Linked DNA regions of Homo sapiens: region 1 is linked to region 2. Evidence: fine-mapped expression QTL. A gene starts in region 2. The other region holds a variant in brackets. All regions are shown on one strand. Distances are between the middles of the regions.

Region 1 (5,353 bases), 150 kb after region 2:
CCTCTGGCTACACTTGGCCACCTGCAGGTGGCTCGCCTTCCCTCATGGACCCCCACCGAGCAAGTCTGAGCTCTGCCAGCGGAGGGAGGAGGGAGGAGGGAGGAGGGAGGAGGGAGAGGCTGCCCTGCCCCCGGGCTGGTGAGCCTCAGGACGCTTGCTGCAGGCAGGTGACTTCACCTATGCGGACCCAGAAAGGGAGCAGAGAGCAACTGGGAGTCAGGCCGGCCCTTGGCTGGAGGAACCAAGGCCTGCCTGGGGCTTGGGGTGTGGGGGCAGCAAACACACAGGGTGATCCCAGCCGCCCCTGCGCCCCGCCCCCTCAACCTGCCCGATGGCCGGTGCTGCTCTGGGCCTGCTCTCTGTCCACAGGTGCTGGCCAGGCCAGTGGGCAGCAGTGTCTCCCATCTTGCCTGTGGCACTGGGTATTCACTGCCGCCACCTGCCCCCAGCCCTCCCCCAGTGGTTGCTGTCAGGTTGACAGCCCAGAGATGAGCTCAGCCCACTCACGGAAAATGGACAGGACACCAGGAGACTGGGCCCAGTCAGGGCACAGCCGCCAGGCAGAGCCAAGCTCCCTCTGTGAGGCAGGACTCAGGACTCCCGCCAGTGGCAGAAGAGGGGCAGCACCTGCCCGGCTGTGGCCAGTGTCTCATGCCGCCTCCCCACCCTTTCTGGGGCTCTGAACCCTCCTCCCGTCGCCCTTCCCCGCTTCCAAGCACCAGCTTTTGCATCCACACTGCCGCCCAGCCCAAGCGCCTCTGCCTCTCACCTCCCTGAGCCCAGCTCAGGCGAACACCAAACCCACAGGACTCCGAGAGCCTGTGAGGGGATGTAGGGACTGTTTCCAGCGTCGTTGGAGGAGAGGTGGCAGCTCCAAGAGGGAGCACTCGACCCGACTTTTGGGGGCCTGGGTCTGAATGGGCTGGGACGCTCTTGGGCAGGTAGCTGAGCCCAGGCAGCCCCTTCTCCCCGGGGAAAACAGGCAGGCGCTTCTTCCTCCAGGCAGTAGCCGAAGCTGACACCGCCCCCAAGCTGACACGCCTAGCCCGGTGCTCCCTTGCGGGGCTGTGGGGCAGGGGAGTGGGACCGGAGCAGGCTGCAGGGGTGGGGAGCAGGAGGCGGAAAATGCCGCGGCCCCACCAGCTCCATGGCTAAGAGGAGAGGCGAAGAGGAAGCAGCTGGTCACTTTCCGAGACCTGTGATCTTTTTTGGGACGGGGAGGGGGCGGTCAGGGAGGTGACGCTGGGACCTGAGCCTCAGCCAGCTTGGCGGGTGAGCCCCTGCGCTCAGCCCCTGCGCCCACGACGACGGGCAGGCACCAGCAGAGTGGCCTGAATTCCGGCCGGGGGACGCCAGGCCGGTGGGAAAACGGGCTGGAGTCCCGCTCAAGGCCAACACCCGAGGAGCCTTGGTCCCCACCGGAGAGGATTCACGGGTGGGCCCGGCCGGGCGGAGGGCGGCGCGGGAGCCTGGGAGAAGGGGGCGCGGCCGCCTGCGGTTTATTGATTGAGTGAAGTTCCGCAAAGTGCTTCGCAGCGGGCCGAGCCCGCGGGAGCCACCTGCCCGGCCCCGACGCGCATGGTCATTTATAAATTTAAAACTCTTCCGTAGCAACCGGTTATGTACAGAGTCAACGACTGGAATCGTAGAAAACAGCCGGGCCCGGCAGCGGCCTCGGAGGCGGAGCGGCACGGGGCTCAGAGGTGCGGCGCGTAGAAGGCGGGCGCCCCGTAGGTCTGCGAGCCCAGCACGAAGGGCGAGAGCACCGCCGGGCTCGACAGGAACGGCAGCTGCGCGGCGCACACCAGGCCTCCGGGGCCGTGCGCCGGGTACCCGGCCGGGCCGTGCATGCCGAGCGGGGCGCCCATGGGCGGCGAGGGGCTGAGCGGGCTGAGGCCGCCGGGCAGCCCCGTGCCAGGCCCGGCCCCCGGTCCCGGTCCGCCCCCGCCGCCGGTCGGAGCGCTGGTGTCGGCGCCCGGGTTCTGCTTCTTCCACTTGGTTCGGCGGTTCTGGAACCAGATCTTCACCTGCGTCTCGGTGAGGCTGAGCGACAGCGCCAGGTTGAGGCGCTCGCACACCGACAGGTAGCGCGTGGCCTTGAACTTGTTCTCCAGCGCCACGAGCTGCTCGTAGGTGAAGGCGGTGCGCGCTCGCCGCGGCTTCCCGGACTTGGAGTCGGACCCCGTGCGCTTCCGCTTGGGCTTCGCCGCCGTCGCCGTGCCCTGCGGGGTGGTCCCCGCGCCCCCCGGCGCCGCTGCACCTCCCGGTGGGCCCTGGGCAACGGGCGAGTTCTCGCGGGGTCCGGGGGCCGCTGCCTCGTCGACGGTGGCTCCGGGGGACGCGTCGGTCTCAGCCGCGCCCTGGCAACCCGACCCGCGGGCCCCGAGGCCGCCGCCGCCTCCCCGCGCCTCCTCCGCGCCTCGCGCCGCCTCCGTCTCGGGCGCTTCGTCCTCGTCGTCGTCCTCGTCGTCGGGAACCTCGTCCCCGCTGTCCGCGCTCGGGCTGTGGCCGCCGCCGCCGCTGCTGTAGCCGTTGGTGTCGTTGGTCTCGGCCTCCCCTGCCTTGAAGGGGTCGCCGGCGTCTGCGGGAGGGAGGGACAAGGACAGGGCAGGGCAGTTAGGACCGGCCGGTTCCCAGATCCCGCCCTCCGCGCGCCCCGCTTCCTCCCCCAGGGTTCCCTCCCGCCCCCTGCTCAGCGCCTCCTGCTTCGTCACCCGCCTCCTCTCTCTCTCCTTCGCTCTGTCGTTTCCCTCCCCTCGGCCTGTCCTTCCCTCCCGCCGCCCGCGTCTCCTCTCGGTCCCTTGCTTGTTTCTTTCTATGGAGAGGGTCCCCCTCGCCCCGCGCTGCCCGTTCTCGCGGCGCCGGGCGTTTTTGCCTGAGCGGGGCTGGACGGGTGCTGCGGGCCGGGCCCGGCTGCGGAGATCACAGCGGAGTGGAAGCTCTGATCGATCCGCAGGGCTGATACACACTTAATTAAACTCATTTTGTGTAGTGTACAAACTAGTTAAGGCCATTTAATTTATTTCGGCGTATATTACCCCCCAATTACCGCCGGCGCAGGGCCAGCCAATTGCCGGGCATTTAATAACAGGCCCGGCGGTGGGGCCGGAGCCGGCCGAGAGAATGGGGCTTGGGGGACCCAAATCCTATGCCCTGGCCCCGACCCTACCTCAAGCCTCCAGGCCCTGAGCTTCGGTCGCGAGGGTCAGCCC[C/A]GGCTCCCCTGCCCGCGCCTCGGCCCCTGCGCAGAGTTGCCGCGGGTAGGGCCCTGCTCGGCCTCACCAGGAGGGCTGGGCGGGCGTGCAGGTCGGAGTGGCTCCCCGCGGCCTAAAGGCCCGGTCGGCCGAGTCTGAACAGCAGCTCCGCATCCTCCAAGCAGAGGCCCTGAAGTGACTGCATTTTGAGTCTCTGAAATTTGGAAGAAAGCATCTCTCCCAGGCAGGGTCGCCTATGCCCCGGCACTGGGGGCCTAAGTCAGGAGGAGTCGGGGCAGGTGCCCTCCACAGAGCTGCCCAGCGGCAGCCGCGGCCTGCTCTCCGGCCAGGTCGGAACCGAAATCTCCGGTAAGAAATGACCAATCGCTCCTGTCAGATTCCTCCAGGGCGACTGGCCACCTGGCATGGAGGCCAGCAGGTGGTCTGGGTCCCCGCGACCCTCAGCAGGAGTAGGATCCGCCCCTAGACGACCGCGAGCGCCGTCCCAGCCCTGCCCCGGGTGCCTGGCCCAGATGACTCCCCGGCTGTAGTATGCGCGCGCCTTCCCGGCTTCAGCGGGATCCCGGCCTTCCGCCCCATAGACTCCCCGCAGGTGGAGGCTCTGAGCGCAGCCGCCGCAGAGTCCGTAGGGTCCCCTCCACTCAGCCGGATTTGTTCGCCCTCCATCTCGGCCGACCCGGAAGAGGCCCCGCGCAGGTGCGGCCCGCAGCCTCCAGGCGCAGAGCCGGTGGCCGCGGCCCAGCCCGGTCCGCCCCGCGCTGTCCTCCCTGTGCTTCAGTAGGGCCGGAAAGTTGGAGGGAGGAGGAGGGGACACAAAAAGCAATCAGGAGCAGGTCGAATGCAATTCGCGATCAATAGCGGCCCCTAATAAGTGTAATAGGTTTTAATCGAGTAATTATCCGAATTTTGACCCTATAATTTAGATGTTCGGGGGGAGTTTGCAAGGTGCTTGAAAGAGATATGCACGCGCCGTAATGGGATATCGACCCGACCGGGGGCGCGGGCCGCCCCATTACCGGCCGCTTTCCGCCGCTAAGCACATTTCCCCTTAACTGTAATCGAAGGGATTTAATTGTTTTTCCAGCGATAACCAGCGTTTTGTCACAATTAGTCTGATTTGTCCAAAAAAAAAGAGAGAGAGGGAGAAAGGAGGGAGGGAGGGAGGCCTCGGGCGGGCACAGTGGGGGCGGGGAGGTCACGGGCCAGCCACCGCGAGCGGCCCCTCGCCTCCTGCACCAACTACCCTTCTAGGCCGGAGACGCGCGGAGGCGAACCCTGGACCGGCCTCACAGCCCTGCAGCCCCTGGGCCTGACCCGGCTAAGCTTCTCCAGAGGAGCCTGGCGATGCAGGCCCTGCAGTCCGGGTCGGATGGAGGCCACGGGTGGGCTGGTGCGGACCCGGCGCTCAGCGAACTTTCCACGGAGCCTCGGCGTGGGCCAGACCCAACTCGCCACGGTGTCCCAGGGTCGTAAACGCATAGAAGCCTCCGGTCCCCCGTCCCTGCGACCTGGTGCCGGGCGCATCCTACTCACTCGGCGGCTCAGCTCCGGCGGCTCCGACTCCCCCGGCGCCGGCGAGGGCGCGGCGCTCCAGCTCCTCCGCGCGTGGCGGGCGTCCCGAGGCGGCGGGTGCAGGGGCGCATGGGGCCGAAGCGCAAGGGGCGCACGCAGCGGGAGCCACTGGGCCCAGCAGCACGCAACGACGCCTCCTGCTGTTGAACTTGTTGGGGTCCAGGATGTCCAGTACCGAGAAGGAGGTGGGGCGCAGGGGCGCTGCGGGCCGGGCCGCTCCAGCCCCCTCGGGCGCCGCAGGCACAGTGTCGCTGGCCGCGAGCGGCGGGGCTCCAGCGCGGGGAAAGGCCGGCAGCTCGGCGCGCCCGTCCATAGCTTCCTGGGCAGCGGCGGCGGGAGCGGGCGGTGCGGGCCCCGAACCTGGCTGGGGAGGCGGCGGTAGCGCGGGAATGTCCCCAGGAGCCTCGGGGCCGCTAGCGCTCATGCCGGCCTCCCGCCGCTCCGGCGGCTCGGGCCCCGCCACCTACTGGGCTCCCATCCCTGGCGGCCCCCGCACCTCCACACGACCCCGCGCAGGCGGCCGCTGCTCCGCTCGCTCTCGGCGCCGCGCCCTGCGCTTGGCCGGTGCT
Region 2 (5,353 bases):
GTCCTGTGCACCCCGGGCCAAGCCTCTCCTCCCCCACTGCCACGTTCTCAGGTTAATGACAAGCGAGTAAAAGGGAAGATCCTACTCGCTGACATCCCCAACCACACGCCCACCTCTCAGAACTAACAGCTGCCCTGGTCAAGGCTGACAGGAAGAAGTGCATGTTGGGGACATGGCAGACACCCCAAAAATGGCCGGGCAGGCGGACGAGGCACCCCCAGGAGTGACCAGATGCCACCCCCAGTGCGTGTCCCTCCCAGAGCTCTGCAGAGGACGCCTGTATGGAAGCAGGTGCTCAAAGATGGGCAACAGAATCACAGAGAGCAAAAGGCGTCTGCGGAGCCGACAGCCCCAACCAGGAGCCAAACCCAGACCCCAGAGGGAGGTGGCCAGGCCCGGGCAGGCAGGGGAGACCTGGGAGGCCGGGTGCTGAGGCCCAGGGCAGAGCCACGCCCTACAAAGTTCCAGGACACAGAAAGGGGGACCCCCAAACCGCAGCTGTCATCCTCAGCTGCAACGGCAAATAGTTACCCCACGGTTCTCCCCCAACCCTGCCCCAAGCTGCAGACGGGTACACAGACGCGCAAAGGCCACGCGCTAGGAGCTCAGCGAGGACGGCCGCGGTGCGGGCCCAGCCGCCAGCGCCGTTTTCTTCCCGAGGGACGTGTGCTCCCTGCCGCGCTCCTACAGAAACGGTGGAGAGGCCGGGGAGGGGGGGGGGGCTCGGGCTCAACGGAACACCCTGCGCACCCGCCGCCTCGGCCCTAGCTCCAGGCCCTCTTGCCCCAACTCTCAGGGTTTCACCTCCCCACTCAGGGCACCGGGAAGGGCGCGACCGCCTTCCCTTTTCCCCACTGGAAGGGAATTCTGTCCCGGCAATCACGGAGACGACAGCAAAAGGGATCTGGCCCAGGCCGGGCTTCCAGACACCGGCGCCCTTGGAGGCCGCCAGAGAACGCTCCAGTCTCGGCCCGGGGCTCAGGCGCACGGACTCTGCCTTTGCAGCCGGGTCGAGGGAAAGAGAGGCTCCGCGCAGCGGCTCGGGCCGGCCCAGGACGCGGGCGCTGCAAGATGGCGATGGTGGCAAGCCCGGCGCCCGCCCGTGCTCCCTGCTTCCGCGGCCGCAGCCCGCGAGGAAGGCGCCCCGGGACCTGGGCGGGCCCAGGCAAGGGCAGGTGGGGGCGCTGGGCCGGTCCGGGACCTCGCGGAGTTCGCGGGAACGGAGACCCCGGGCCCTCCCGCGTCACCGCCGGGGGCTGCGCTTTGGGCCCGGTCTGAGGGCAGCGGCCTCCTCCACGGTCATACCCGGCACCCGCGCCCCGTCCCCTTCCCCCACAGCGCGCGGCCACGGTCGCCGGCGGCCTCCCCGCGGGAGGCGCGCTCCCGCGAGTGGCCCGGGAGCGCGCGCCCCAGGACACCCCGAGCTGCGCACGGCTCCCGCCCCATCCCGGCCCCGCAGGCCCAGCCACGGGGTCATGACCGGGGACGGGGTAGCGGCCGGGGATCGGGACCCGGGGTGCCGTCCCGGGTCCGACGGGGCTGGGGTCGGTGGAGCTGGGGGTCCGGCGGGGCAGCCCAGAGGCCCACAGGCCCTTTTGTGTCACCTGCACGGGCCGCGGGCGGGGAGAGCAGACTGCGGCGCTCGCGCACACGCAGCGGCCCGCGCATGCGCAAGACCCTTCCCGCGGTCCCGCCCCCGACCGCGGCCACGCGCGGACGCCGGCGCGCACGCGCACTCGCACACAAAGCCGGCGGCCCGCGGGCGCGCGCTCGGTCCGCCCCCGCGCCCCCCGCCCGCGCGGCACCCGCCCCGCCCCGCCCCCGCCCGCGGCCGGAAACGCGCGCGCGCGCGGCCTTACCAAGCGGCAGGCCCTTGTTGAGCAAGTGCGAGCTGCCCATCGAGAGGCGCGAGCGGCCGCGGGCCCCGACCACTCCGGCGCGCTGCGCCGCCGCGAGCCCGGCGCGTGGGGCGGCCTCGGCGCCGTCCGCTGCTCCGCCCGCCCGCCTGCGCCTGGCCGCCGCCGTGCCGAGTCTCCGCCGCGCCGCTGAGCCGCGCTCCGACGACCGCGCGGGCGGGGACACGGCGGCGCGCGCGGGCGGGGCCTCGCGGTTGGTCTCCTGGTTCCCAGCGCGGGCGGCGCACGGACTCACGCGGGCGGCTCAGGGCCCGCCCGGCCGGGACGCGGCTGCGGGGCGGGGCGGGGCGGGAGCCTGGCGGGAAGCTCGCGGGGCTGCAGCCCGGCGGAGGCCCCGGGCCTGGTGTTCCGCACGTTCTAAACCGCCTGTCCCCGAGGAAGTCGGGCAGGGTCGGGCCGGACTCAGCGCCGCTGGCGGGAGCGCCGTCCGCCCCGAGGACCCTGCGGGCCCGGAAGCCGAGACAGGGCCGCCCACGTCAGCGCCTGGCGCGGGCCCGAACGTAAATGGCGCTCCTCCGCGCCGCAGCCGCAGCCGCCCCGCTCCCTTCCCGCTCCGCCAGCTGCCGCCCTCCCGCGCTCGCTTCTCGCCCCGCGGCCTGGCCCGTGCGCCTCCGAGGCTGGCCAGGGGCACCGAGGCCGCGGGCCCCCCATCGCCCCCACCCGAGCCCTGATTTACCGTCCGAGAGCCGGCGGCACATGGGACCCCGAGAGGAGAAGCGCGCCTGCCCCAGTGCGTCCCCAGGCGGGGGAGCCCCGACTCCTGGAGGGACCGCGTCCTGCCCGGCCCGGGAAGTTCAGGGCTGGAGAACCCCTTCCCCGACCCCATTTCTCTTTTAACAAGAGTAGGGTTTGTAGCTAACCAACGTCCTGACAGCTCAGCTCTGCTTTCCCTTTAAGCATTAATATCAAAGCCCTGCCTGCTACCGGTGAAGCCCCGACCCGGGAGGGCCCGAAAGTCCCTTCAGGGAGAGGCCGCACTGGGCCTGCTCACCCAGGGGCTGCCCCTGCAGACTCTCCCGAGGGGCCCAGGGATATTCCTCGCGCCGCGAGTGGACGCTTCCATCCACCCCATGGGGAGGGCCTCTGCGCGTGGCTACTCTGAGCCCTCTGGAATGCCGAGATAGTTGCATAATTTCAGAAACCACGGCATGGAGACGGAATGATGCAGACTCCTATCCGCGAGATACCTGCTGTAATTTCGCTGTGGTTCGTGAGGACGCGTCCTGGGCTGCCCTGAGAAGCCTACGTCTCCCCTTCGAGGCCCGGGAAGACCTCCAACCCCGCTGACAATGCTGGGCCCTCAGCCAGACCTGCCCTGCGTGCCACGTTCTGTTCTAAGATCGGGCTGCCGAGCTGTGGCCTGGAGGAAACCTGGCAGGTGTCACCAGAGCTTTGGGGAGGGTGAGGCCCTGTCGGGGAAGCCCAGTGGGAGTCATGAAGGAGGGAACACGTGTGGAGCCCTTGTAGGGGGAGGGGCAGCCCTGCAGAGATCTAAGAAAAAATTCCAGAAAAATGAGCAGCAACCTCCAAGGCCAGGCATCGGTGCAGGGGACAAGGGGTCGTAGCTGGAGGGGCCTAGGTGAGGCTGCCGGGAAGGGACGATGTGGTTGGTGGAGTGCACAGGCAGGGACCTCACTGGACTTTCCTGTCTGCTCAGCATGGACAGGCAGCCCAGGAGAAGGCAGCACGTGGCCGGGTGCAGGGACGTACCACCCCCACTTCCCCAGGGGAGCTGGGGTCAGACGAGTCCCAGGCACTCCATCCTCTGCAGCAAGTCAGGTTGTGATTTACTAGGGGGTGGTGAATATAATGGAGAGACTTCTGGGGAGGAATTCCTGGCTCCCGCGTGGACTTGCAGAGCTCAACAGGCAGCCACGTGGCTGAGTGTCCAGCAAACATCACATAAGGCTTTGGGTCCTGCAGGTGGGGCTGCCATGAGCAGCAAGCTCAGTCCAGAAGAACAGTTCCTCTCCAGGATCCACTTCCTGCGCACTTTTATGTGCAGTGTAGCTGGAGCAGAGCTCCCCGGAATTCCACAGGCAACTGAGAACGGAGAGGGATGCAGGCCAGCCAGGGATCCAGCGTCTTCCCCATCGTCACTCTCCATGGCCTCCGTCTACACACAGTGTTCGTCTGCACAGCTTGTCAGCGCGTTATCATGACTTCTATTTGGCACCGGCCCGTCTGTCCACTGTCCTGGCTTGTTCCAAGCGCTGCCTTCTCCAACTGGGGTCCTGGCTGCAGAGCTGTCTGCTCCCCACGTTGGGCAACTCCAGCCAAGATTCCTACACCCAAATGTGACCGTGTTGCTCACGAAGAAGGCTCAGCTTTGCGTGTGCCCAGCCGTGTGCACAGCTCGTCCCAACTCCTGCGGGTGGCACCTGCCTCTCCCACCTCCAGTCTTTCCCCTGTGATGAGCAGATGACCACCGCCCTCCAGGGTCAGCGTTTGGCTGTTTGTGTGCCTGCCCACCCGCCTCCCTGTGCCTGGGCCTGCCCTGTGCCTGCACACAGGAGTGGCTCATGGCGTTTGCCCTACACGGATGGGCTGTCCTGGGAGCTACTGGACAGTCACCTTGGTGGGAATGCCAGAGGCATGGGCATTAGGTCCCCCCGGCCAGCCTCCGTTGCCACATGGGCTATTTTTGTCCATCGCGTGGGACAACCTAGTATTGGGGGAAAACTCAGTCCACTCTAAAGAAGCATCGGCGTTTTGGATGGACGAATGCTGCTTCATGCGACTCCATGTCAATGGACTATTTTATTCAACTCGGGTATTTATGAGTGTCTCCTCTGTGCCAGCCACGTGTGAAAGAAGAACTCCAAGTTACTGGACACCAGGACAAACCAGGTAGATCACTGCATCCGGTTCCTCCTCTTTCTGCCGACTCTCCCGGGCAACCGTTCTGATTCCTGGCATGGAGTTGGGGGCGAGCTCATCAGTACCCAGAGCGCCTGGTGTGCAGCCAAAGGCCCCCATTTTATTAGTCGGTGTGTTCAGTATCACGCTCAAGACAAGGGCCAACCTATTACTTCACACACCTCAAATACAAAAAGTGCCTGGGAACGTCGATGAGGTATTAAAGGAAACCACTGGTCTTGTCAGTCATGTACACACAGAAAAAAAAACCAGTCATTTTTATTTTTATTTTTTGAGACAGAGTTTCGCTCTTGTTGCCCAGGCTGGAGTGCAATGGTGCAATTTCAGCTCACTGCAATCTCTGCCACCCGGATTCAAGCAATTCTCCTGTCTCAGCCTCCCGAGTAGCTGGAATTGCAGACACCCATCACCACGCCCAGCTAATTTTATGTATTTTTAGTAGAGATGGGGTTTCACCATGTTGGTCAGGCTGGTCTTGAACTCCTGACCTCAGGTGATCCACCCACGTCAGGCTCCCAAAGTGCTGAGATTACAGGCATGAACCACTGTGCCCAGCC

The links. PIP is the estimated chance that this variant, and not a neighbour inherited with it, causes the effect. A credible set is the group of variants that fine-mapping cannot tell apart.
Region 1: its variant is the best candidate, but not a certain one, in a credible set for the expression of CTBP1-DT in whole blood (INTERVAL, PIP 0.70).

Annotation. Positions count from the first base shown.
Region 1 is chr4:1,401,235-1,406,587 of GRCh38, forward strand. NKX1-1 (NK1 homeobox 1) reads right to left here and starts at 5,208. Exons shown (of 2, transcript NM_001290079.1): 1 at 4,746-5,208; 2 at 1,698-2,581. The coding sequence starts at 5,208. The coding sequence ends at 1,698. RefSeq lists a silencer at 1,987-2,281 and an enhancer at 4,569-5,159. The variant C/A (reference allele first, on the strand shown) is at 3,213.
Region 2 is chr4:1,247,057-1,252,409 of GRCh38, forward strand. CTBP1-DT (CTBP1 divergent transcript) reads left to right here and starts at 2,384. Exons shown (of 2, transcript NR_033339.1): 1 at 2,384-2,416; 2 at 3,055-5,353. CTBP1 (C-terminal binding protein 1) reads right to left here and starts at 2,074. Exons shown (of 10, transcript NM_001012614.2): 1 at 1,860-2,074. RefSeq lists silencers at 963-1,682, 1,853-2,782 and enhancers at 3,153-3,202, 3,263-3,352.